5 separate regions of the Homo sapiens genome follow, and all the other regions are linked to region 2. The links come from fine-mapping of genetic effects on gene expression. A gene starts in region 2. Each other region holds a variant in brackets. All regions are shown on one strand. Distances are from middle to middle. Region 1 holds the start of RNVU1-4 (RNA, variant U1 small nuclear 4). Region 2 holds the start of NOTCH2 (notch receptor 2). Region 3 has its middle 9.7 kb from the start of ADAM30. Region 4 has its middle 31 kb from the start of NOTCH2. Region 5 overlaps SEC22B (SEC22 homolog B, vesicle trafficking protein).

Region 1 (5,105 bases), 880 kb before region 2:
CAGACCAGCTCTAGCTCAGAGCAGAAAAGGCTTACCTTTTTCTTTCTCAGAAATGACTATGGAAAACAGTAAACAACAAGGGCCGGGAGCCATGGCTCAGGCCTGTAATCCCAGCACTTTGCAAAGCCAAGGGAGGCGGATCACTTGAGGTCAGGAGTTTGAAACTGTAGCAGGAGTCATAGACAAAATCCCTCAGACACCCGATTGTGGAATGTAAGAGCTTTTTTCAGCTGGGACCATCGGTAGACTCACATCCTAGAAACCGAGCTCCCCAAATAAGTAATTCTTGTCCCTTTTAAGGGCCCACAACTCTAAAGGGGCTGTGTTGGGGGGGTCATGATCAACTGAGCAAGCAAGGGGTACGTGACTGGGGGCTGCATGTACTGGTAATCAGAATGAAACAGGACAGAAAAGGGAATTTCATAATGCTTTTTTATACAATGTCTGGAATTTATAGACAGCACAATCGGTGAGGTCAGCGGTTGAATTTTAACAACCAGGCCCGAAATGTGGCACCCAGTTGTCTGAGCGTGATTTTCACTTCTGCCCATTCTTTCAACCTCCACTTTTTCAGCAAACAAGAAATTAAGTGTAAGACAATATGAGGAGTGGTCGCTCTCAAAACCAGCTTGGCCAACATGGTGAAACCCCATCTCTACTAAAAATAAAAAAATTAGCCGGACATGGTGGCAGGCACCTGTAGTCCCAGCTACTGGGGAGGCTGAGGCAGGAGAATCGCTTGAACCTGGGAGGTGGAGATTGAAAGTGAGCCAAGATCCCACCACCGCACTCCAGCCTGGGCGACAGAGCGAGGCGAGACTCTGTCACACACAAAAAAAGCAGTGCCTTCAAAAATCTCAGAGAGAAATTATTTCCACCTATCTTTTTGTATCTCTATCTAGTAAAATATCAATTAATTTTATGGGTATAAAAGACATTTTCAGACATGCAGTGTCTCAAAAAGTTTATTTCTAAGGTAACCACTTTATAGGAGGTTTTGGAGGATATGCATCATCAAAAGGAAGAAGTGAGTGAGGAATGAACCCCCTTGAGATCCATGAAGCAGGGGATCTAACAAGAGAGAGGCGATGGAAATCCCAAGATGGTGCAGTAAAGAGAGATATTATGATAACAGCTGTGGGATAAGCCTGAAGAGCAAGTCATCCAGAATGGAACATATAGAAATGTGCCAGGAAAAATTTCTTTCTTTCTTTCTTTTTTATTTTTTATTTATTTTTATTTTTTGAGAAGGAGTCTCGTTCTTTTGCCCAGGCTGGAGTGCAATGGCGTGATCTCGGCTCACTGCAACCTCTGCCTCCCGGGTTCAAGTGATTCTCCTGCCTCAGCTTCCCAAGTAGCTGGGAGTACAGGCGCCCGCCACCATGCCTGACTAATTTTTATATTTTTATTAAAGACGGAGTTTCACCACGCTGGCCAGGCTGGTCTCGAACTCCTGACCTCAGGTGATCCACCTGCCTGGGCCTCTCAAAGTGCTGGGATTACAGGCGTGAGCCACCGTGCCCGGCTGCTCTTTTTTATAGACGAAGAAATTGAGGTACAGAAAATCCAGTAACGTTTTAAAAGTCACGTCATGAATGAACCAAGATTTCAACCCAGAAATTGAGGCTTCACTACAAGTGAAGACTGGGGTTTTCTTGTTTTCAATTATTGGGAGTTTTGGATTTCCAGGAATGTGCAATTGTAAAAACCCAGCTTCAAGAGGTGATGAAATAGGTGCAGTGGCTCTGGCGTAAGCTCTGAAGCCCCAGGCTCAGGCTCTATTGAAAAATTACTTTTGCTGAAATATTCCTGTTTTTAGGAACTTCCATGGAACTTGAGCCTTCACGCAGCATATTTTGGCATCTGATTCAAAGCTAATAGAGGTCCGGAGGATTCCCAGGATTAAAGTCTTTAAACAGAAACTGTGAATCTTGCCTAAGCAAAAGGTGCCATCCCTGGATGGGCTTGCACCACCAACCTTTCAGTTAACAGTCAAACGCGCTAACCGATTGCGCCACAGAGACTCTAATGGCTTGTGTCTTAAACTCATTTGCTGATACCAGAAATGGCTTTTTAACCTCTGGCTGCAGATAATCTCATATATTTGATGCCTGTCCAATCCCGCGCACTCCAGAAACCCAGAATACGGGAGACAATGAAGCCAAGAGTCGAGTCTTTGGGCACTTTGGACGTTCTACCCGGGCAGAGTCAGCTGGGGGACTCCAACGGCCAAAGGGCCACCTGCTCCTCACCGTCTGCTCTTCACTGCTTCCCCCGCCTGCTCTTCACCCTCTCAAAAGTCGCTGGCCCCTCTACAGGTGACAACTGCAGCTTCTCCGGCGAAAGCCACTCGCTTTCCCATTCTTAGCCCCGCTCACACCTTGCGCTCACAGTCATTTCCGCCAGGCCTGGGCCAGCGGACGCGCGCGTGGGAAGGACCAGAACCCGTGGTGTCCTCACTGCGTCCCCCTCGGGCCCTCAGAGGTGGGATCCACAGGAAAGGGACCTGGAGTTTGCACAGGCTGCAGCCCTTCGCCCAGAGCCACCCTAGCACCTAGTAGGTGCCCAATAAATGCTCAGTGAAGGAAGGCATTCCACCGCAGGGTTTTAGGAGAACCATGAATTCCTGGATGAACATTAAGCGTTTAGTCCTACTAGGAAGTCTGGAATATAGAGACTTGAACTGTTTCTCAAAGGCAGCTGTTCTTGTATCCCCAGAGCCGGTTTAGAATCCAGCAAAGGCCCCTGCCCGGTGTATCCCACCTCTGGAGACCCGAGGATAGTGCGGTGGGGAGCACCGCGGGTTCTGGTCTTTCCCACGCTCACGTCCACTGGCCCAGGCCCAAAGGAAATGGCTGTGAGAGCAAGATGTGAAGATAGTTACAAATACCAGCTAGGGCCAGTGACAGTTGCAGAAATGAG[G/A]ACTTGTAATAGTTAGGAGTATTTCTTCATTATTTTGAGATGAATACATTTGGTTATATATTAACCAATACTTTTCTTGAGAATTCTCATCTTCCATCATCCTCGCTATCATATTCATTAATAGTTAACTTTTAGAAATCTCAATATTTAGGTTACAGGATAGCAAATATGGAATGTGATCTAGCTAAAAAAGGAGTGAACATCATTCAAAGACAAATAAAAGACTTTATCCTGTTGGGGAAAGGGTTGGCATATTTTCACTGAATGAGAAAAAGTATGATTTTCCTATTGTCTTTATTTGAACCTTAAGTATGGCTTTACAAGGAGGAAAAAGGAGGAAGAAGAAGAGAAAGAAGAGGATGAGGAAGAGGAGGAAAAGAGAAGGAGGAGGAGGAAGGTGCACATTGATGCCACTTTGAGAAGAAGTGGACTGTGGTGGATTTGTAATGTATCAGTTTTGCCAAGCTGAATGCACATTTCCCAGATTTGCCATCTTTAGATAGCTCTAGGTTAGCCTGGGCAACAGGAGACACTTGGAAGATAGAATTCAAGTGGCTGTTACACGCTTTTGTATACTGGGAAGGGCGTTGTTACAGCTCAGGCATGATCTTCATCTTCCCTGACCCTTGGACTGGTGGGTGTTTTGCTTCTTGATCTAACATTAAGGTTAGAAGTTGCAGGATCCCAGCTGGGTTTTGTTACATCCAATCTGGTTTAAGTTCCCATATTATTAGGAAAGCTTTAGGGTGCTTCAGGAAAACGCTTTTCAAAAAATCAGATTTGGAAAATATCAAATGGAATTACAGGCAATAAGCATAACCCAGTGGAAACATGAATCAAACCCTCTAGAGCAGGGTTGTCTAAATTTTGGGTTCCTTGGGCCACACTGGGAAAAAAAAAAAAAGACATTTGTCTTGGGCCCAGCATAATATACACTAACTGCAACTGAACCGTGCGTGTAAAGCTTGTAAACAAAATCTGTCTGTAAAGTCTGTAAACAGGCCAGGCGCGGTGGCTCAGGCCTGTAATCCCAACATTTTGGGTGGCCGAGGCGGGCGGATAACTTGAGGTCAGGAGTTTAAGACCAGCCTGGCCAACATGGTAAAACCCTGTCTCTACCAAAAATTCAAAAAATTAGCCGGGCCTAATTTTTTAGTGGCCTGCGCTTGTAATCTCAGTTACTTAGGAGATCGAGTATTCTCTGGCTGAGGCAGGAGAATAGCTTGAAGGCAGGAGGCAGAGGTTGCAGTAAGCCGGGATCCCGCCATGCACTCCAGTGGACTGTTTGCTGTTAATAAATGTTTACAATGGGCTCCCGTAGGGAAAAGAAAAGCTTAGTTTTATTTCTATAGAACAAAAAAAAAAGTTAAGAGATTAGTAGAGACGGGTCCACCATATTTGACCACACTGACATCAAACTCCAGAGCTCGAGCGGTATTAACATAAAGTTATCAATGCATCTCACAGACTACTGAGATTACAAGCGTGAGAACCAACCACTACCTGGCAAAATCTTTACTTTGAAAGTAAGTTACAGATGGGAACAAAGACCTGTTTATTAGTTTATACTAACGCCTTGTATATGCTTCCACAGCAAACAAAATCCACTTTTAAAACGACAACAACCCAGGGAAAAACACAGACACAGTTCCCCACTGCCACAAATTATGTAATCAAGATTCCCACATTCGGGGAAATCACAGGGGTCAGCACATCCACAGTAAAACTGCTAAGCCTTGCTCTGGAAAAACCACCTTCGTGATCATAACATTTCTTCTGCCAGATAAACATAAGTATAAGCTCACGCCCCTCCGCCCCGCCGCAGCCTCATATGCCTCACCCTTTACACGCAAGGTCACTTGCGTCACGCGCATCCAGGAGCCATCCTAGCCCTAACACACAGCTGCGACTCTCCGGTCCGACCAGAGGTCCCAGACTTACTCCCACGGCACGGGAACTCTTTCGTGGCGAAGCAGCAGGTGGCGAAGCAGCAGCCCCTGCGCTGCCTCATCTACATAGAAATCGCCCTCTCCGTGATGTCACCGACAACGCCTTCTGGATCCCCGTCTGCTCTTCCGCCTCACCCAACGCCCCTCAGCGGAGCAACCAGCTGTCGGAGCCGGCGGGAGAAGTGACTTATGCCTGTCCCTTCTTTCTCTCCTGTCCCCGCCCCTCGTCTCCCG
Region 2 (5,105 bases):
GTGTGAAAAATAAGTATCGGTGTTAAGATAAAGAAGCGGCAGTGGAAGACAGTGGAGGGACTGTCTGTTAGGGGGAGGAATTTATTGCGGTGTCGGCAAAGCCTTCTTTGGACTGAAGGATGAATTATGATTAGAAGTTCATTAAGAGGAGGAGGGAAGGGGACTACAGGAGTCATTCCAAGCCAAAGGAACAAAAGATACAGGGACAGAAACAGCAAGATATGTTTGGGGGAATCTCAAGTTAGTCAATACTGTTATTGTGTGAAGTTCACAACAGGGGCAGGGAGGACAGGAGATGGGGCCCAATGACGAAAAGGCCTTGTATGTACCATGTTTAGAAGTTTGAATTTTATCCTATAGGAGTCAGGGAGAGGTTCTATGGGTAGGATTTCCCATCCCAACAGGATTGTAAACTCCCACATCCAATTAGTCACACCTCCATTTTTTTTTTCTGTTTCTTTAACATTGTCTCGGATTCATTCCTTCTGAAATCTACCTTATTAGTTCAGGTCTTCTTAAATTTGTGCCTGGACTGTTCACCAACTCTTGACTGGTCCTGGGGCTCCAGTTCACCTCTTGCTCCCCCAACAATCAATTTTCTACAGAATTATCAGAGCAATCTTCCTTTCCATCAATCTCAACTCTGTTCAAAAACTTTCAATAGTTTTATGTGACCTAAGAGGTAGCTGCCTCCCCACCCTTTCAGCTTGCCATTCAAGGCTGCATAATTTGGTCCCAACCCCCTTTCCGTCCTTGACTCCTCTCACTGCTAACAGAGACAGAACTCATTTACTTACTCTTTTGACTGTACCTTTGCTTTCACGAGGGCTCTTTCCTGGAATGATATGTCCATACAACTATTGTTGCTGTTCTTACTTTTAGCTCTTTTCTTAGAAGCCCACTTGTACCCAGGTTTGATCACACCCCCTACTCTCCTGCCCTGGAAGTAACTACTATTCTGGTTATAGTCTCTTAATATCTATATCTATATATATGCATCCACAGATAATGTGTAGTATTGTCTTGAAAAAAATATACATAAATGGTATACTTTGTCTCCCTCTGTGATTAGTTTTTTCACTATCATTTAGTTTTTAAGATTTATCCCTATTGACATAAATAGCTATAGTCTTTTCAATTACTGTGTTGCATTTCATTTTATAAATATACCATACATTATTCATCCATTCCTCTAAGGGTGGGCATTTATGTTGTTTTCAAGGTTTTGCTATTACAGTGTTACAACGAATATCCTTAGCTTAGCTGGTCTCCTTGTCTTATACAAATTTTACTGACCTTTCAAGATCCTGCTTTCATCCCAGCTCCTCTGGGAAAGCCTTCCCTGAATCCCCCAGCCCACAGCGGCAAAGTCTTGGTACTCAAAGTTGCTTGTGCATCTTTGGTATCATCCCACTGCCAAGCACACAGCTACGCAAAGTAAGGCACTTAAGAAATATTCGCTACACGGATGAACAAATGAATGAATGAATGGGGCAGCACCACTCCGTGATGGCTCTATTCCTTTTTAATGGACTTTGGCGCCTTGGCCCACTTTCCTTCTTTGACAGCACTGGTCCTACTCCAGAGCATTCCTCTAGCTAGCAAAGCAGTGTGTGGATGTGTGGGTGTAGGTGGCGATACAGACCTCACTGGATGAGGACCGCCTCTCCCTGCAAGTTCACGATCCCGGCAAACTCCAGTGCTTGAAGTTCAGAGTCCTACCCCACCCCCCTCACCCCCACGCCCCTTCTGCACTGGTCAAGCCAGCGAGCCGCTGCAGCCCTGATCGAGTTAAGGCGCGGCGGCCCCCGGGGCCGCTGGAGAAGGATGCGGACGGGGCCAGTGACTCGTAGTAGATCCCTCCGCGCGGAGCTCGGGCCGGCGCTTCTTCCTGCGGGAAACCCCTGGGTGCCCAAGGCGGCGGGGCCGAGGCCGCGGCGACAGTGGGGCGGGGCTTGCGGTGGGAGGAGGCGGCTGAGGCGGAAGGACACACGAGGCTGCTTCGTTGCACACCCGAGAAAGTTTCAGCCAAACTTCGGGCGGCGGCTGAGGCGGCGGCCGAGGAGCGGCGGACTCGGGGCGCGGGGAGTCGAGGCATTTGCGCCTGGGCTTCGGAGCGTAGCGCCAGGGCCTGAGCCTTTGAAGCAGGAGGAGGGGAGGAGAGAGTGGGGCTCCTCTATCGGGACCCCCTCCCCATGTGGATCTGCCCAGGCGGCGGCGGCGGCGGCGGAGGAGGAGGCGACCGAGAAGATGCCCGCCCTGCGCCCCGCTCTGCTGTGGGCGCTGCTGGCGCTCTGGCTGTGCTGCGCGGCCCCCGCGCATGGTGAGTATCGGGCTGAGGGGCGCTGTCCGCGGCGCCCGGGGCTGCCACCTGGGGCGACCCTTCTCCCCCTCGGTCCTTCTCTGTGTGGGAAGGCCAGGCTCGGCCGCCGGCGCGGAGCGAGGCCACTCGCTGGGTTCCCAAGAGTTTGGACATCGCCGGGGGCCCCTCCCGTGGTGCCCCGCCAACCGCCGGGGTTCCCCGCCGCCTCTGCTCCCCGCGGCCCGGGACCCCTTACACGCCTCCTCGGCAGGAGGGAGGCCGGCAGCAAGTCTCAGAAACTCCTTTTTCGTAGTGCCAGGGTGCAGGGAGGTGGGCAGTTTTGCCCTTCAGGTTCCGCGTTTCTTGGGGTCGAGCGAGAGCCGACGGCGGGCCTCGGAGGGGCTGAGCGAAGGAATGCCAGATTCTGGCGTGGAGAGCGGGGGCAGGGCCGCCAAGCCAAACGGCCTGCACCGTCGCAGCCAGCCTCGCCTTTGCCAGGGGGCGGCACATGGGCCGGGTGTGTGGGCTTGGTTTGGATGGGGACGGGGTTTTGCGGCGCGCCTGAGTTTTGACACTCCAACCCCACCGAAAGTCCGGGGGAGCCGTGTGTGCTGCTCGCGTCTTTGAAAGGTGGAGGCAGGAGAAGTAGGGCAACTGGTGTGGCTGCATGCTGAGGCACATGATTTAAAAATCTCAACTGCTGTTATTCTTTCCGAGGCGCGGAGCTCTGCTGCTGTTTCAGGCTGTGTCCAGACCCAGGAATGTGGTGTGACGATCACCAATTCCTCCAACCTGGCAGCAGCATTTGCTGCTCCTTTGGCATGGCTGGGGGTGGGGCACGGGCGGGTGAGAAAAAGTGGATACGTTAATTCAAAGGGCTTCCTTAGAAAGCTTCTTTATGGTTGGATGTTTCTAACACGGTTGGACCAAGGAAAGGGAATCAAATCATATCTTCCCCATCCCACCCACACTTTTAGATTCTACATTTCTTCAGACCCTTTAGTGGAAATAACTTGGGCTTTGGAGCCCTGCTCTGTAATCCTGGATTCAAATCCAGCTCTGCTATATGAACTCACCAATAAAATGGGAAAGAAATTATCCAGCTAATAGGATTAATTAAAATAATGTATATTAAACGGATGACACTCCAAAGGTGTTCAGAAAGTCCTTTCAGGGCCGAGGCTGTGTTTTACTGCTTCTGAGATTGATGCTCCCAGTGGGATGCTGTCTTGTGCATATTTGTTGAACGGAAAGCAGCCCCTTCTTTTTCTGAGCCTAATCTGAATAAAGATTTTTACCTTCACCAAAAAACTAGTACATGAACTACATCTGTTTTCAAAGAAAAGGTTAGGAAGATGATGAGCTTCAGAAAAATATGGTCTTTGTTCATTGTTAACAGTCAGTCGACATGTCAATCGCAGATGTTTAAAAAGAGAACAAGGTTATTTATCACCCGAAAATAGTACTGGGTTGTTCAGCACCAACTAGATACTTCTTGGAAAGTTCAAATTTCGTACACGTCTAGGTCACTAAGAATTTCAGAAGTGGACCAGGAGGCTTTGTAGTGATGAAGCAGAGCCGTTGTTTCTGAAGCATTTAATAAAGAGCATATATGATGGTGTTTTTGCTTTTCCTTTTTCTTTGAGTGAAAGCTTTAAGTGTAGCTTTAGGATAGAGAGGAGTATGATCAATGAGACAGTCTGAGGGTAATAATCCTTGGTCTATCATTAACTTGTTTTGGTAAATAACTTAATCTTCATGATATGTAGTCTCCTCACCTATGAAGCAGGACTAAAGGAATAACCTGCTTTAGAGAATTGTAGGGAATAATAAATATAATTGTAAAGTGATTTGAAAAATTAAGTATTAAATAATATGATATCAGAAATGGGATTACTCTGACACATAGGGCTTCTTTTATTATAGGATCTCAGTGCATAAAACTATGCCCTCCACCTCTGCTCTGCTGAGGTGCTGCGATTATTAGCTAGCTTTTAGGTAGTCAAGTTGAGTGTTAGTCAAGTTGACTCAAAGGATAGGATTTAGATATTTTGATTTTTAGACAGGTGTTCTTTAGATGCTAAACTAATGCAGTAGAAGAGATTTAGAAGCCGTTTCTCGGTACAAATCTTAAATCTTCTTAGAGTCTACAGTGAAGGCTTCTTGAATCCTCTTAATTTATTATTGTGTTTTGCTAAGGTACCAGTTGCAGCACACCCTTCTAAACTTTTGAGTGTTCCTGTGTTTGGCTTGTGGCCAATTGTTAATTTAAACATCACGGAGTTTCTAAGGCAAGGAGATGTTAGCAGTATGTCTGATTGTCTAAACAGCTATCCAGGACCATCCTCTTGCTCCTTGTTTTCTTTTGCTTTGCAATGGGAAGTGACTCCCTGATTTTGCTGCCTGCTAGATAATTTCTCAGCTGAATTCTTCTCTTGCTTAAACAAAATCGGAGTAATTTTCTTTCAGATGGTGATGAAATTTAACCTAAAACTATTTTTCCTTTCACTTTCTTATTATTCCTTTTTTTTTGGTGTGGTGGAGAGGAGGAGGAGAGTGATTCCTAGTCTCTCTTATTTTTCTGAATGTTTAGATTTAAAAAATATTTACCCATAACTTCTTGGGATCTCTCTGCTCCATTCCCACCCTACTGCCTCTCCTGTAGGCTTCTATGACATAGAGGAGCAACTTTTGGTTCACCTGGATTGTAGTTGCTGACTTCAGGACCTTTAGAGAATGTTTAAATTCAGTGGGATATGCTTGGATGGTTCAGAGCAGCCTTACAATACATCTTAAAAATATC
Region 3 (5,105 bases), 160 kb after region 2:
TTGTAACCTGGCCGATAATTTTGAGAGCTTCAAGAGCCTCATTGTAAAACATCACCTGTCTATTGCACGTGCCTATTTGAGAAAATTTAGGCTGGGCAAGCACTGAGATGTAGGGACCCAGCCCTTGTCCCGCTGTCATGCAATTGTCTCACATTTCTGTCTCTCTCCTTTTTCTCTCTTCCATGACCCCTTTCCCTTGCCTCCTAGAAAAGTTTGAAGAAAGTGGATTTGGAAGAGGATAGGCATCAACCACTAATCATGTTACATCAGAATGTGTGTTACTGTGCTTAGGTTTTACATATAAAACTAGGGTTTTACATATAATAGTTAGAAGGTTAATACGACTATATGCCTGGACAACTGAAGAAAACAGAGGAGAACTACCATAAACTATTAGGGATTCAGTAAATAAAATGATGTAAAACCAATTCACAGAAGAACCATTTGCAGGATGTAATTGAAAAGACCACATTTACAATAGTGCACACGTGCACGCACACACACAGACACACACCCCAATAACCTTAAAAAAATTCAAACCCAGTGGAGGGGCTTCAATATATATAGCTAACTAGAGGCATGTGGTACTTGTGTTTTTAAAAAAATTCAAACCCAGTGGACGGGCTTCAATATAGCTAACTAGAGGCATCTGGTACTTGTGTTTTCTACAAAGAAGAACAAAAATAACAAGAAGATAATCACACTTCAACTAGATCATCTAAAAGAGTACACAGGAATTCAACAGAAAAGTGGCCAGAAACACCTAAGGCAAGGAAAGAGAGAAGTGAGACAGCCTGCTCAGCCATGACCAGCTGGGAGCCCAGAGAGGCTCTCCAGTGTGGAGAAAGGGTAAGTGAGAGACCCCCAGCAGTCCACATTCCCACTGTAGATTCTTGCAATCCTAGCCATGAGATAACTCCTCGACCCTTGAGGACCTTAAAACTAACATAGGAAGCTGCCTGAAGACCATACAACTCTACTGCTCTAGAATGGGAGCTCACGCTGGGTCCCGCACACACCACCCCTGGCAAATCCTAAGCAGCTACAGCAAGGTTCCATTTTGAGAGTCCATCTCTCAGCAGAATGAATCCTGTCATGAGGCTCAAAAGCCTCTGCATCTCCACATCCTGGGTCCCCCGTTGATATCCTCCACCCACAGCTGCTGCTGCTGGTTGCTGCTGTTGGCTGCTACTGCCAGGCCCAAAGTGTAAGCCATTGGCTGTGACACTGCCCACCCCCAGCAGTTGGCCACCACACATTTATAAGCAACCTAAGGACAGGCTACCTCATGCACATCTTCCACTTAGGGCCAAAGCATGCACTCCCCAACCACCTGCCCATGGTTGCTGCCACTGAAAACAACCCTGCCCACTAGCAGCAGGGTCACAGGGCATCTGCTGCCACCCTCACCCAAGCATTCTGCCAGGGACCTGGTGTATTGGTGAGAGTTCTCCAAAGGGACAGAACTAATAGGATATATGCATATATGAAAGGGAGTTTATTAAGGAGAATTGATTCACACGATCACAAAGTGAAATCCCACAATAGGCTGTTTTCAAGCTGAGGAGCTAGGAAGCCAGTAGTGGCTCACTCCAAGTCCAAAGCTCAAAAGTAGGGAAGCCGACAGTGCAGCCTTCAGTCTGTGGTCAAAGGCCTGAGAGTCTGCAGCAAACCACTGGTATAAGTCCAAGAGTCCAAAGGCCGAAGAACCTGGAGCCTGATGTTCAAGGGCAGGAAGCATCTAGCGCAGGAGAGAGAGATGAAAGCCAGAAGACTCAGCAAGTCAGCTTCTTCCACTTTCTCCCACCTGCTTTTTCTAGCTGTGCTGGCAGCTGATGGGATGGTACCCACTTAGATTGAGGGTGGGTCTTCCTCTCCCAGTCCACTGACTCAAATGTTAATCTCCTCGGCAACACCCATACAGACACACCCAGAAACAATACTTTGCATCCTTCATTCCAGTCAAGTTGACAATGTTAACCATCACATCCAGGATCACTCTGCCCCTGTCTACCACAGCTAGCACCTGCACACACTGCCAGTGGTTGTTGAAGACAGGCCTGCCTGGCCCAGCTCTGCCTCTTCCCACAGTGCCCAGGCATACTGTTCAGGAGCCTGGAGATCACCCTGCCCCATCCACCACCTTCGGCATGTGAGCACTCCTTCCAGGAGCCTAAGGATGGGCCATCCAACCTGCTGCTACCACCACAGCTGGCACCCACCTGCATGCATGACCTACGGGCTTGGGGACTGGCCCAACTAGCAAATTTCTGCCCCTGCCAACCCCAGTGCAGACTGCTTGGAAACAAGAAGGTTGTCCCACTACTGCTACTGCCATCATCTATGCCTTGCTCACTGTGCAGGGGCCCAAAGACCCACCAACCTGTCCAGCCCACCACTGCCACTGCCAGCACCAAAGCAAGCCATTTGGAGGCCCAAGAACCAGCCTGTCTAGATCTGCTAACACTGGTGCCAGTGCACATTACCCTGGGGCTCAACAACAGGCATTGTCAGCCTGCCACTGCCACCACTGGGACACAAGGACTGGCCCATTTTGTGTCCCCATCCCTAGCAGAATGTCACCACAGCCTCCACTAACAACCACACCCTA[T/A]GCCACTGCTACTGATGCTGGTTACAGCCAAAGAAATCATACAGAGACTACACTACCGCATGCACCTGGAATCAAAGCCAAAGTGCCCTACACAACCAATACCATAGATACATCCTCAGAAAAAAGTCCTCCCTTATGAAAGCAAATTCACAAAATTGGAATAAGTGATTGTTACACCAGATGTGCAGATATCAGTGTAAAGACACAAGAAACATGAAAAAGCAAGGAAAGATAGCATCCTCAAAGGAACACAATAATTCTCCAGCAAAAGATTCCCATTAAAAAGAAACTTACAAAATCCCAGAAAGGAATTCAAAATAATGATTTTTTAAAGCTTAGTGAGATACAACAGAACAAAGTAAACAATACAAAGAAATTAGAAAAACAATTCAGGGTATGAATGAGAAATTTACCAGAGATAGAGGTCATACATAAAAGAACCAAACAGATTCTGAAACTGAAAAACTCATTGAATGGAATTAAAACATATATTCAAAAACTTCAATAATAGACTAGATCAAGCAGAAGAATTTCAGAGCTTGAAGACAGATCTTTTGAAATAACCCAGCCAGACAAAAATAAAGAAAAAAGAATTTAAAAGAATGAGTGAAGCCCACATGACATATAGCATACTATTAAGCAACCAAATGTTTAAATTTTTGGTGTCTCAGAAGGTGAGAGAAAATATAAGATCGAAAACCTATTTAACAAAACAATAGCTGGGAATTTTCCAAGTCTAGCAAGAGATTTAGACATCCAGATAACAGGAAACTCATAGATCTCCAAATAGATACAATTTAAAAAGGTCTTCTCCATGGCCCATTATAGTCAAACTGCCAAAAGTCAAAGACAGAGAATTCTAAAAAGAGCAAGAGAAATGTGTTTAGTCACTTATAAGGGAATCCCCATCAGACTAACAGCACATTTCTCAGCAGAAACCTTATAGGCCAGAAGATAATTAGATTATATATTCAAAGTGTTGAAAGAAAAAATGCCAACCAAGAACACTATACCCAAAATGTTATTTATAAACGAAAGAGAAATAGTCTTTCCCAAATAAGCAAATGCTGAGGGAATTCATCACCACTAGACAAGTTCTACAAGAAATGATTAAGGAAGTCCTGTACCTGGAAACAAATGGATGATATCTACCATCATGAAAACACATGAGTGTATAAAGCCCACTGGTAGAGCAAACACACAAATAAAGAAAAGAAAGGACTCAAATGTTACCACTAAGGAAAATCACCAAGCCACAATAATAAACGATAAAAGAGAAAGAAACGAACAAAGGATATACAAAAAACTCAAAATCAATTGATAAAATAAAAACAGGAATAAGCCCTCAGATATCAATAATAATCTTAAATGTAAGCAGATTAAACTTTCCACGTAAAAGATATAGACTGGCTAAATGGGTTAAAAAAACGAAATAAAACATGCTCCAACTATATGTTGCCTTCAAACATAGTGAAAGTATTCTAGCTTGATGTGTAAACAAGTTGTAAACTAACCTAGGAGTATACCCTTGTAACAAACCAACTGAGTCTCAGCCAATTATAGTAGCTGAACCTTCAGCAAATCCCAGGCTTTAAATTGCCAGATTATGCCCAAATAAAACAAACCTCAAACTGTACCAATCATTTAATCCCTGTATGTCATTTCTTGTTTCCTGATTTTTAAGTATAGCTCACCATGATGGAGGTGGGGGTATTCTGAACAATTTTTGGTTCAGAATGCTTCCCAGTTCTAAAACCTGTTTCCTGCACAAACTTTGTTAAATTTAATTTGTCTTAGTTTTTTCTTTAATAATTGTAAAATACAGCATATAAAGAAGTGAGGATAAAACTTTCAGGACTATTTTAACAAATATGTACAGCAAACCCTAGCAGTCAAGAAATATATTGCTAACACCCCAGCAAAAGCTACACCAAGCATACCCTTCTTCCTCCCTCCCTTCTTTTCCTGAGTATAGCCCCTTCCTTTCACCCTAGAAATAATAGCTCCCTGACAGGTTTAGTAATAATTTCCTCAATTTATTTTACCAACTATCCATTTGGGCTGCTATGACAAGATACCTCACGCTGGGTAATATATAAATTGAAGACAGATCTTGCTCACAGTTCTGGAGGCTAGGAAATCCAAGATAAAGACAACAGCAAATTTAGTGTCTGGTGAGGACTATTTCTTTCTTTGCTTCAAAGACGACGCTTTCTTCCTGGGTCCTCACATGACAGTAGGGGCAAAGAAGCCCCCTCAGGCTCCTTTTTAAGGGCACTAATCCCATTCATAACTCATGGGACCCTGCTGATCACCTCCCAAAAGCCCACCTCTTAATACCACCACATTGGGGATTAAGTTTTCACATTTCAACTTAGGAGAGACATAAACATTCAGACTGTAGCATTCTGCCTCTGGTGTCCCAAAATTTATTTTGTTCTTACATGCACATTCCATCCCAATAACCTCAAAACTCTTAATTTCAGCATCAACA
Region 4 (5,105 bases), 31 kb before region 2:
TGCCCGCTTCCTGGATTGATTGATTGATTGATTGTTATAGAGACAGGGTCTTGCTATGTTGCCCAGGCTGAACTCAAACTCATGGGCTCAGGTTATCCTCCCACCTCAGCCGCCCAAGTCATTGGGAGGTCTGCCCCTCTTGACCTCTTCCCTGACTCTGCCCTCTTCCCTCCCTGCATTGCTCCTCCACCCATTCCAGTCATTTATACCCTGATAGGTAAAAGAGGGCTTCTACTTTCATGGTCTCTCAAAGCACTGCTTTCCAACCACAGCCCTCAGCTATGCCTCAGTTTGGGCCTATCAGGTCTACATCCACATACCCACCACCCCTAGACAGGTGACAAAAGTAGTGCTTAAGAAATAAATGTGCTTTTTTGCCTCCCCCACACAACTGACTGCTCTGGCTAATATCACTGCTACACACTTTGCTTTCACTAATTATTATTGCCTGCCCTCCAGAACTGTTTTTTTTGCATACAACGGTTTTTGTCCTTAGTGTTTTTTTTACACCTCTTCTTGGTTTTATTATTATTGTTTTTTATTTTTTTATTTTTTGAGACGGAGTCTCGCACTTTGGCCCAGGCTGGAGTGCAGTGGCGCGATCTCTTGACTCACTGCAAGCTCCGCCTCCCGGGTTCACGCCATTCTCCTGCCTCAGCCTCCCGAGTAGCTGGGACTACAGGCGCCCGCCACCATGGCTGGCTAATTTTTTGTATTTTTAGTAGAGACGGGGTTTCACTGTGTTAGCCAGGATGGTCTCGATCTCCTGACCTCATGATCCGCCCGCCTCGGCCTCCCAAAGTGCTGGGATTACAGGCGTGAGCCACCGTGCCTGGCCCTCTTCTTGGTATTATTGATATTCCTGCAGCTAGACAGTACCCGGGAAGGAATGCACCAACTAGAAGGAGCTTTAATGAGCCTACTATGTTATGGCTGGCATCAGCCTTCAGAGAGGTTTGACATAGGATGCCATCTAATTCCCCGCCAGCCCATTCATTCTATCCAACTAATGGGAAAACTAGAGGATTGCTGATAATAATAGCATCAGCAAAAATAGTTACCATTTATCAAGCATTTACTATGGGCCAAGTACTATGCTAAATGCTCTGCATATATTTTCTCACTTAATTCTCAAAAAATGCAATGAGGAGAATGCTATTTTATCTCTAGCTCACAGCTGAGAAAACTGACCTGCCAAAAAAGCCGCTTAATGAATAAGTGATAGAGCAAAATTTTGAATGCAAGTTAATTTAAAGCCTGGGCATTCAGCCACTCTGCTGCCATTATCATACATCATCTGACTTCCTTCATGTCCCATCTCCCAACTTCTGTTTTTTATTTTCTCTTTTCCTGATTCTCCAGTTACCCACCCTAGCAGTGGAGGTGATATATATGAACTGCATGCCAAAGTGGGTGTAGACTCATAATGACAACATAATGACACCAACTGGACCATGGGAAATGGTGAAGGCAAGAGTAGTTATTTTAACTTGGCCCTTTGAAACAGAGACCCTGCCGCAAGTTATGAGGGGTTTAAGTATTTTCCTGTTTCATTTGCCCTTAGATCCCAAACACCTAGAACTGTGCCTAGCTCATAGTAGGAGCCCAAGAAATACCAGCATGGAAACCTGGAAAGCTGGGGTAAATCTGATGAAGAGCACAGGAGCCTTAGTAAATCCGGGTGATCTGAAACTGGCTCTTAGTTGAGCCAGATGATAGGATCTTAATGACAATTGTGCACCACTTCTCATTTCTTGCGACTCTTTGCAGGTTTGCTTCTTGCTGTCTTATTCCAACTAAAAAATTCTGTTTACTTTTCATGTATTTTCTCTACCTCAGAATTGCTGCTTATTCATAAATTCTGCCTTCTTATCACATGGTTCTGCTTCCTCATAGTTTTGGTTTGCTATAATCCTCCATGGCTCCACTCCATTGTATGCCATCCTTTCAGCTTCAGCTCCCATGGCTAACTGCTTCTTTCTATCCATGTTTCCCAATTCAAATCCCAGAAGGAGAGAATCTGATTGATCAAACTTACCTTTTCCATTCAAGCCCTGGTTTTTGGGAAGGCAGCCCCTAATGTCAAGGGCCAATCATTGGTCCAATCAGGAGCCATCCCTGGGCAAAGAACAACCTACCTCTGCTTCTCAAAGCAGGGGGCTGTGGGTGGGGCACTTTCATCTCAAAGAGGAAGTTGGGTGTGGCAGGCACTGTGTTGACATATCCAGTATAGGAGTGCCCTGGGAGCCCATCTCTCATTTCTGAAAGAGATAGCATTGTAGATCTGGACGTTTCATCACATATTCCCAGGAAGGCCCAGCCAAATGCAGCTGGTAAGTTGCTGAATGTGGAATTCCTCTTGGCCTTCCAACTCCTTGCACTCTTCCTTCTGGGACTACTTTGGTTTTTCAGTTTATTACCTGTTTGGAGTTGGCTTGTTTCTGGACTCTCTCTTCTGCTCAGGTGAGCAGACTTCTAACTGGAATACCTGGCTCTTGGACAAGGTGAGTGTTTGGATCCAACTTTGGTTCTGCACCATTCTTTCAACTTGGATGACATTGCCTCACCTCTTGTATCCTTGTCCTCTCCCTTCTACTCAATCCACTCTGCTCTGGGTTATTATTTACCTGAGGGTGCCTTCCCTTCCCAGACCCACCAACATACTCCTGAGGGAAGAACATTCAAAAGCAGCTGGTGGCTTCAGTGAGATCAATTTTTAGAGGAATGATCGGGGCAGAAGCTAGATAGAAGCAAGTTGAGGAAGTGGAAATAGTGAGTGCAAGACACTTTTCTGAGAAGTTTAGATGAA[AAGGAGGGGAAGAAAAC/C]AGCTATGTGTCAAGAGTTTGGTGTGTGTGTGTGTGTTTTATTTTTTTTGAAAGAATTTGCTTCTTATTATATAACACATGATTTTGTAAAACATTTTGAAAAAAACAAAAATTATAAACAATATGTTTACAATTGCCCATTAAACTACTACGTAAGTAATTACAATAGTTACCAATTTTTGAATACCTACTAAACAGAAGAATTATGCTAGGAACTTCATGAATTATTTTTCTATTTCTTGTGCAATACAATGTCCCAGATGGGTCAGAATTCAGACAGATATGGCTGTGATGCAGAATTAGACAACGTCTCTTCCCTTTAAGCAATGATTGGCATCCATTGATTTATAAGGAGGCTGAGAAGTTTGCTGGGGGCAAAATGGAAATATTTGCCTCAGTAGGGTCTTCAGCATTCATGGGCATGTCTGGAGACAGTTCCAGAGGTAGGCAGAGTGCTGGCAGGAATGGTGGGGCCCCTGGAGAGAGCACCGTTGGTTGAGGAAGGAGTTTGTAATGGTAAGACTGGGCTTTAGACCTGGAAGGTCATGGTAAGTCTGACTGTCACAGGGAAGGGCCTAACCCAGCTTCCTTGCATGTGTCTTCCCAGAAGAAAACAAAGAAGGGCCTCTGAGTCATGGAAAGAGCCATGAAACTCTTTAATGCTCTAGGGCCTATCGCCCAGTAACTGGTAACTCAGTGTTATATTAAGGAAGAGAGCTTTTCTTTTCCCACTTTGAAAGAGGATGCTGACAGACATCACAGGGGCTATCATAGCCCTCAATTTCCCATAAAACCGGCACCACAGTGCCAGCTGTGATTGCAGAAAAAGGTTTTTATCCAAGTTGTGTTAAGGAAATAGTAGTTGATTTCAGTTAATTCAGTCATAACACTTTACCTTGAGCATTAATGCTGAAAAAGTCAACTCTCTTACTTCCTGTTTTTCAAAAGCATTATTGGCTAGGGTAACTGTGCAGGGCTCCACGCTGACACCGTTTGTGGACTTTTAGCTCACAGTGGTGCTGTCAGTGCCAGCATCTTGGTGTCTGGCTAACTATAACAATACACATGATGACAACACTGGCTTAAGAACACAGGTAAGATCTGTCCACCAATGACACCCAAATGTCTTTGTACAAAAACACCTACTCGATGAGGCCCTCCCTGACCACCTTATGTAAAACCGAGCAACCCCTCTGCCTTCCTACCCTCTGCCTACCCCGACTTTCTTTCCATAGCACTTATCATCATCTCATGTTTTGTCATTTTTGTTTCTTTTTCTTCTTTTTTAATCATCGTTTTTCCTATCCCAAAAAGCAAATGCCAAGAAAGCAGTGTCCAGGTCTGTCTGTTTATTGTTGTGTCCCCAGAGCCCACATCAGTGACTCACACAGAGTGCTCAATATTTATTGAGTTAATCCATTTCATGAATTTCTCATAAATATTTGGGGAAGGATAAGAACTATTAAGATTTTTAATTAACATGATCACATTTGGATTTATAGCTCAGGAGAACCAAGGATATTTGCTTACATTTATACCACCCTTACAAGGTCCATACTCTAATATGGCCACTTTACAGGTGAGGAAACTGAGGATCAGAGTGAAAGCAACCTGCCTCAGCCCCCATAGATAATAACGATCAGAGCCAATATAAACTGGTGTAGTAAGTAAGAAGACAAAGTAGGTAGTATTGCTATAGGTAAAGCAAGAGCTAAGGAAAGCCTTAGTTGATATGGCAGAAATAGGAACAGAGAGAAAGGGACAGAGAAGGAAGAAACTGTGAAGCCTGATTAGAAATATGGAAGGCAGAATTCAATATACTCCTAGAAGCAGCCCATGAAAATAAAATGAAGAAAGAAGGATTTTTTTTCTAAGAGGAGGGTGGCTTCAATTTCTTTCAGAAAAGATTGGCTAACTGAAAACTAAGAAAGAAACAAACCAAATCCTTGTAGCTTCTAGCACATCTATGATAAAATTCTGTTAATTGGATTTCATACTTGGATTATAACTGCACAACACAAGAGAGTAAAATGCCTTAAGACAAAAAGAGTAAAAATTGAGTCATAATATGGAGACGATACTATTCTGGCAATAGTATTCAAAGAATGGACCAGGGAGCAGTGCACAGCTTTGGGAAGCAGGGATTGTCAACATTAGGACTCAGAGTTGTTAGTGATGAGGTTCCCAGGCAACATAAGAGACCCTTGAAAAAGGCTTTGGCTTAGGGAAAAAGAATTATAGGGGCCAGACGCGGAGGCTCACACCTGTAATCCCAGCACT
Region 5 (5,105 bases), 89 kb before region 2:
GGGATTACAGGTGTGAGCCACCGCGCCTGGCCAACTCAGAACTTTTAATCTCCTACCTCAGTACTTTGATGGCCATGAAAGAAATGGTCAGTTTTCTTCATCATTCTAGATACTTTCATTCAGAAAACCAAGAAGCTCTACATTGACAGTCGTGCTCGAAGAAATCTAGGCTCCATCAACACTGAATTGCAAGATGTGCAGAGGATCATGGTGGCCAATATTGAAGAAGTGTTACAACGAGGAGAAGCACTCTCAGGTATCTAAAAGCAATGAGTCTTATGAAGAAATGGTTCTCATTCCATAGACAAGGATAGCTTATTTTGCAGTGCCTTTTATGCTATTAGATTCTACCTAGAACTGTTAAGAATTTATCTCCCAGAAGTACATTACATTACAATGCTTCCAATATATTTTTTTTCCTAGCATGATTAGTTTTTGTTGAGTTGGAACAGTGTAAAGGACTCATCCATATTAGAAGCAATGATTATTTCTAAGATATTCACAAAATTAATTAAATTATATAACTTGTATAAATTAAGGGAAATGAATGAGAGAAAACTCAATGATGTATTGCAGTGGTTTTTTGAGTAGCCTCTTTGGGAGACTTTACTGCTGCCAGATCAATCTTTATAAAATGCCATTTTCATCAAGGCATTCCTCTGAAAAACTTTTAAATCTGGGACTACAAGATAAGATCCAGTCTGACTTATTTTTCCGTCAGTCAGCCATTGTTATTGAGAGCTTGTTATTTGTAAGGCATTGTGCTCTACATATGGAAAATAAGGAAGATGCAAATGTCTGTCATTCTCTAGTTCACAAACATTCTTCTGTAGCCACACCAGCTTCTTTACTATCCTTAGTGGTCTATTCTGCCTTATGCTGGACCTGTTCTGTAAGACCTCCATAAGAACTGTCTCTTTAAAGAACCTTTCTCTGATCCTTATAGCCTGTATCACATTAATCTCTTCTGTACTTTAAACTCCTAAAGCACTTAATAACATAATGGTTTTAGCACATATTACATGTATGTGTGTTTACCTAATTTACCTTAAATATATTTATTAAATACCTCTTACCATATTAAATATATATTTAATATATATTAAATATATTTCCATATAACATAAGTATATATTTCATATATTTATATTAAAGTAGGCAAACATATTTGGATAATTAAATATTTTTATATAATTTCGTATATTTTTTTGAGACAGAGTCTTGTTCTGTTGCCCAGGCTGGAGTGCAATGGCACGATCTTGGCTCACTGCAACCACCATCTCCTGGGTTCAAGCGATCTTCCCACCTTATCCTCCTGAGTACCTGGGGCTACAGGCATGTGCCACCACGCCTGGCTAATTTTTGTATTTTCTTAGTAGAGATGGGGTTTTGCCATGTTGTTCCGGCTGGTCACAAACTCCAGGGCTCAAGCAATCCACTCACTTCAGCTTCCCAAAGTGCTGGGATTACAGGCATGAGCCACAACACCCAGCCCTTTATATAATTTTAAAAGTGTAGGTAATTAGGTAAAATTAGGTTAAAAGTATATGTATATTTACCTGATATTTAAATATTACCTAAGTGTTTAATGTGGACATGTAAGCTCTTTAAAGATAGTGCTTATGTATTTTATATCTGTTTCACATACTCCTTATATATCCCCCACAGAAATGGTCACAAATAGGTTCCTTAATAAGTATTTTTGAATTCAGCCATGCTATATATTCATTAGTAAGTGAGTTTTCTTTTATTATGAACTACAAACTTTAACCTTTTTTTGAGTAGTGAGCAGTTATTCATTTACCTTCACACTCTTTAAATACCAAATTTTGAGTGAGTGAGTGTGTAAGGTTTTGTCATACAGACTTGCAATTCCTATATGGGATAAAGTAGACTAGCACAGGAATTTTTCTTGTATCACTCATGCAAGACTCTAAATTCCTTAAAGGCAGGGATCATGTATATTTTGATCACTGTTGTATCCTCAGCACTTCACATGGTGCCTGTCACATAAATATTTGTTAAATGACTTCTCCAAGCAATAGCTTTGTCTTTATGTTATCCTGTATTTCAAAACGTTCATATATAAATTCTCTCAACTATGACTTGTTTCATAGGGTCTAATAATTGTTCCTCTGCTGAGTTATTCTCAGCAGATTTAGATTCATTTAGCAAATGTTTATTGAGCACTAACTATATACCAGGCCCTGTTCTGGGCATTCAGGATATAGCAGCAAACACAATAATTTAAAATCCCTGTCCAGTGAAGTGTATATTCTTGTAGGCTCTGTAAAAAGATGCCCTGTGCATTGTCATGGTTGTTTCTCAGTCCCTGACTCTTCTTCCGTGACTAGATGTTTTTCTTACTCATGTGATCAGTTGCTAATTCAGACGTGGCTGTCATGCCTGTGTTATTAAGTAACGCCATGTTTCCCAATCAAAACCAGTCTCTATTAAGCAACTCCAAATATTCC[A/G]AAAGCATTCTTTAAGGAAGAAACAACCGGATTGCAAAATAGTTTTTTCTGAAATTTCAAGAAGTGAAAAGTTTGATCAGAATTTATTATGTCAAATGGAGAGTTTGTGTTTATTATTAAAATATGCCTTATATTTTAATATGGTCTAGCTTGTGTCTATCTGGCTATTTCTCTAAGTGTTTAGTTAACTGTTATAAGAAGATAACAACATTACAAATGTCCTTGGGGGTGAAAAAACTTGCCAGAAAATACTAAAAAGCTTAATTTACTTGCGTTTTTTTTTGTAGTACTTATTGTATTTTAGTTACAACTTTCCTATGTCTATTGAAATATAAATCCTGATAGCTTTAACTTCATAGTAGTCTCTACTATGTGGAGAATCTTAGAAATGTTAGCAGTCATCATTGAAGTATAGCTTAAGACTGTGTTTGGTTAATTGAATTTTCTGGTTATCTGAGTTTGTTTTACATGGGTTATCATTATCGTTTTTCAAAATATAAGAGAATATGATTCAGACCATTAGAAGATTATGAAGATAATAATTATTAACATGTAATAATTATTATAATTTATCATGTGCAGGCATTGTTGCTCACTTTACAGGCAATCTCATGTACATACAACTTTATGACATAGTTACTGTTATTATCCCCAATTATAGATGAAGAAACTAGGTTTTAAATAGGTTACATGACTTGACCAATGTCACATAACTTGTACAGGTGATATCTGAACCAAAGAGTCTGAGGCCAGAACCTGCACTTCTAACCACCTTACTATATAGCCTCAAAAATTCAGACATCATCTGATCAGCATCATCAGTTAATTAGTATATGCAATGTTAGCCTTAAAATAAAAATGATGATTTAAGATTCATGGTTGTTGCAGTGCTGCTCATTTTGGTTTGCCTTAATACTTTCGGTAAAATACTTCCAGGGACTAATTAATGTTTTCCTTTTTTCCTCTTTGACAGCATTGGATTCAAAGGCTAACAATTTGTCCAGTCTGTCCAAGAAATACCGCCAGGATGCGAAGTACTTGAACATGCGTTCCACTTATGCCAAACTTGCAGCAGTAGCTGTATTTTTCATCATGTTAATAGTGTATGTCCGATTCTGGTGGCTGTGAAATAATGAATACAGTCACTGGTAAGGGAGAACCTAGAACCCAGTAGGTGTATATTTTCAGGAAACTGAGCTCACAGAGATGTGTATTAGAATCCAAGTGGAACTTCTGCCTCTAAAGACCTTGCAAGAAAAGAGATGCCCTGAAAATGAAAGGTTGCACCTCATTTAATGAAGCTTAACCCTATGTAGAAAGTCTCTTTCGGGGGCAGAGGCTTTCTCTGGGTGCCAAGCCATATATATTAGGGAATAGTAGATTGTTAATTTCGTTTTTTCCCTCCCAGTGCATTTTAAAAACAGCACTGGCTGGGGCATTCTCATTCTCTGATGGAGCCATCAATGAGATTTAACTTAGTCAACCTGTGCTAGCAACATTCTGAAATTCCTTCAAAGAAGGCAGTCCTTTGGGAAGGTGTTTTTTTTTTTTTTTTTTTTTTTGACTCTAATCAACATTCCTTTTGTTGGTGACATTTGTGATTTTCAGTAATCTGAGTTTTTGATGGCCTTTTAAACAAGACTCCAGTATGTGAAGGTTAATTGCTGTGCTCCACAGATCTTGTCTATTGGCCCCTGTAGAAAGTTAACCTTTGTTGTTTTCCTTTTATAATTTGCTTATTGCACAATTGCTTTAGGGTAAGTGAATTATATTAAGATGCCTTGAAATTATAGCACTCCTTGATTAAGAAGCTAAAATGTTTCTCTCATTTACTCCTTAAACAAAAGACTTAAATTAGTTTGGGTCATTATTACTTTTATTTTGCAGCATTTGGTTTGTTATTAGCGTAAGAGCAAGTATAGGATATGGAGAGGCCCCTGGCTTCATGAGAACAAAGGCAGGCCCAGGTTATAATTACAGCTTTCTCCTGCCCCTTCTTTACTTTCTCTACCACAGTTTTCTCCACTGTTTGTTTTCCTCTTGCCACAATTTGCTAACATTTAAAAAATTTTCCTGCACCCAGTAGTTTCATATCCTGTAGACATCCTCTTAGGACATTCTCAAATTTCAAAATAAAAAATATTCATCTATGTAGTTAATTAAAGTTAAAGTTTTTGCAGATCAACTACTCAAACTACTAAATACATTTACCTGAGAAAAAGTCTCTGAGAGCACTTCATTCCTGTTTTAGTTCGTGTAAATTCTCTGAGAATGTTCTGGAGATAGATAACTCATTTACAGTGGTTTCTATTAACTAATTAAAGTACCCATGATTTTTTCCTTTTCTGCTCAGGGATGATGGAGATTTCCTTTTACCTTCTGAGGTAGAATTTTTTAATGGGGAAAATAGGCCTTTTAAATATTATTGCCAGGGTCTGCAATATAACTTAAAATTCCTGTACATACTGCAAATATTTCTTTAAATTGCACAGGAAAATGAGCGAACTTTTTATTTCTTAATATCTTTGGCAAAAAACTTTAACCAGTAAGCAATTTTATAACCCTGAGGGATCATCAAAGATACTATCCTGATTCCTGGTAAGGAAAAATATATTATTTCCTTATAACAAG

Evidence for each region.
Region 1: its variant is fine-mapped to the expression of NOTCH2 in whole blood (TOPMed, PIP 0.97).
Region 3: its variant is fine-mapped to the expression of NOTCH2 in whole blood (TOPMed, PIP 0.90).
Region 4: its variant is fine-mapped to the expression of NOTCH2 in whole blood (INTERVAL, PIP above 0.99). The same link has a PIP of 0.9 or more in CD4 T cells and regulatory T cells.
Region 5: its variant is fine-mapped to the expression of NOTCH2 in whole blood (INTERVAL, PIP above 0.99).

The regions. Positions count from the first base shown.
Region 1 is chr1:120,942,208-120,947,312 of GRCh38, reverse strand. All of the region lies in intron 2 of LINC00623 (long intergenic non-protein coding RNA 623), which reads right to left. RNVU1-4 (RNA, variant U1 small nuclear 4) reads right to left here and starts at 4,713; the gene lies at 4,550-4,713. RefSeq lists enhancers at 4,082-4,785, 4,717-5,026, 4,775-5,105. The variant G/A (reference allele first, on the strand shown) is at 2,923.
Region 2 is chr1:120,066,552-120,071,656 of GRCh38, reverse strand. NOTCH2 (notch receptor 2) reads left to right here and starts at 1,995. Exons shown (of 34, transcript NM_024408.4): 1 at 1,995-2,323. The coding sequence starts at 2,251. It overlaps LOC101929178 (a long non-coding RNA gene), which reads right to left and starts at 1,829. Exons shown (of 2, transcript XR_254374.4): 1 at 1,646-1,829.
Region 3 is chr1:119,903,689-119,908,793 of GRCh38, reverse strand. No RefSeq gene overlaps it. Among named protein-coding and RNA genes, the nearest start is that of ADAM30, 9.7 kb to the right of the region's middle. The variant T/A (reference allele first, on the strand shown) is at 2,612.
Region 4 is chr1:120,097,882-120,102,986 of GRCh38, reverse strand. No RefSeq gene overlaps it. Among named protein-coding and RNA genes, the nearest start is that of NOTCH2, 31 kb to the right of the region's middle. The variant AAGGAGGGGAAGAAAAC/C (reference allele first, on the strand shown) is at 2,810.
Region 5 is chr1:120,155,535-120,160,639 of GRCh38, reverse strand. It overlaps SEC22B (SEC22 homolog B, vesicle trafficking protein), which reads left to right. Exons shown (of 5, transcript NM_004892.6): 4 at 110-256; 5 at 3,448-5,105. The coding sequence ends at 3,602. Among named protein-coding and RNA genes, the nearest start is that of SEC22B, 18 kb to the left of the region's middle. The variant A/G (reference allele first, on the strand shown) is at 2,475.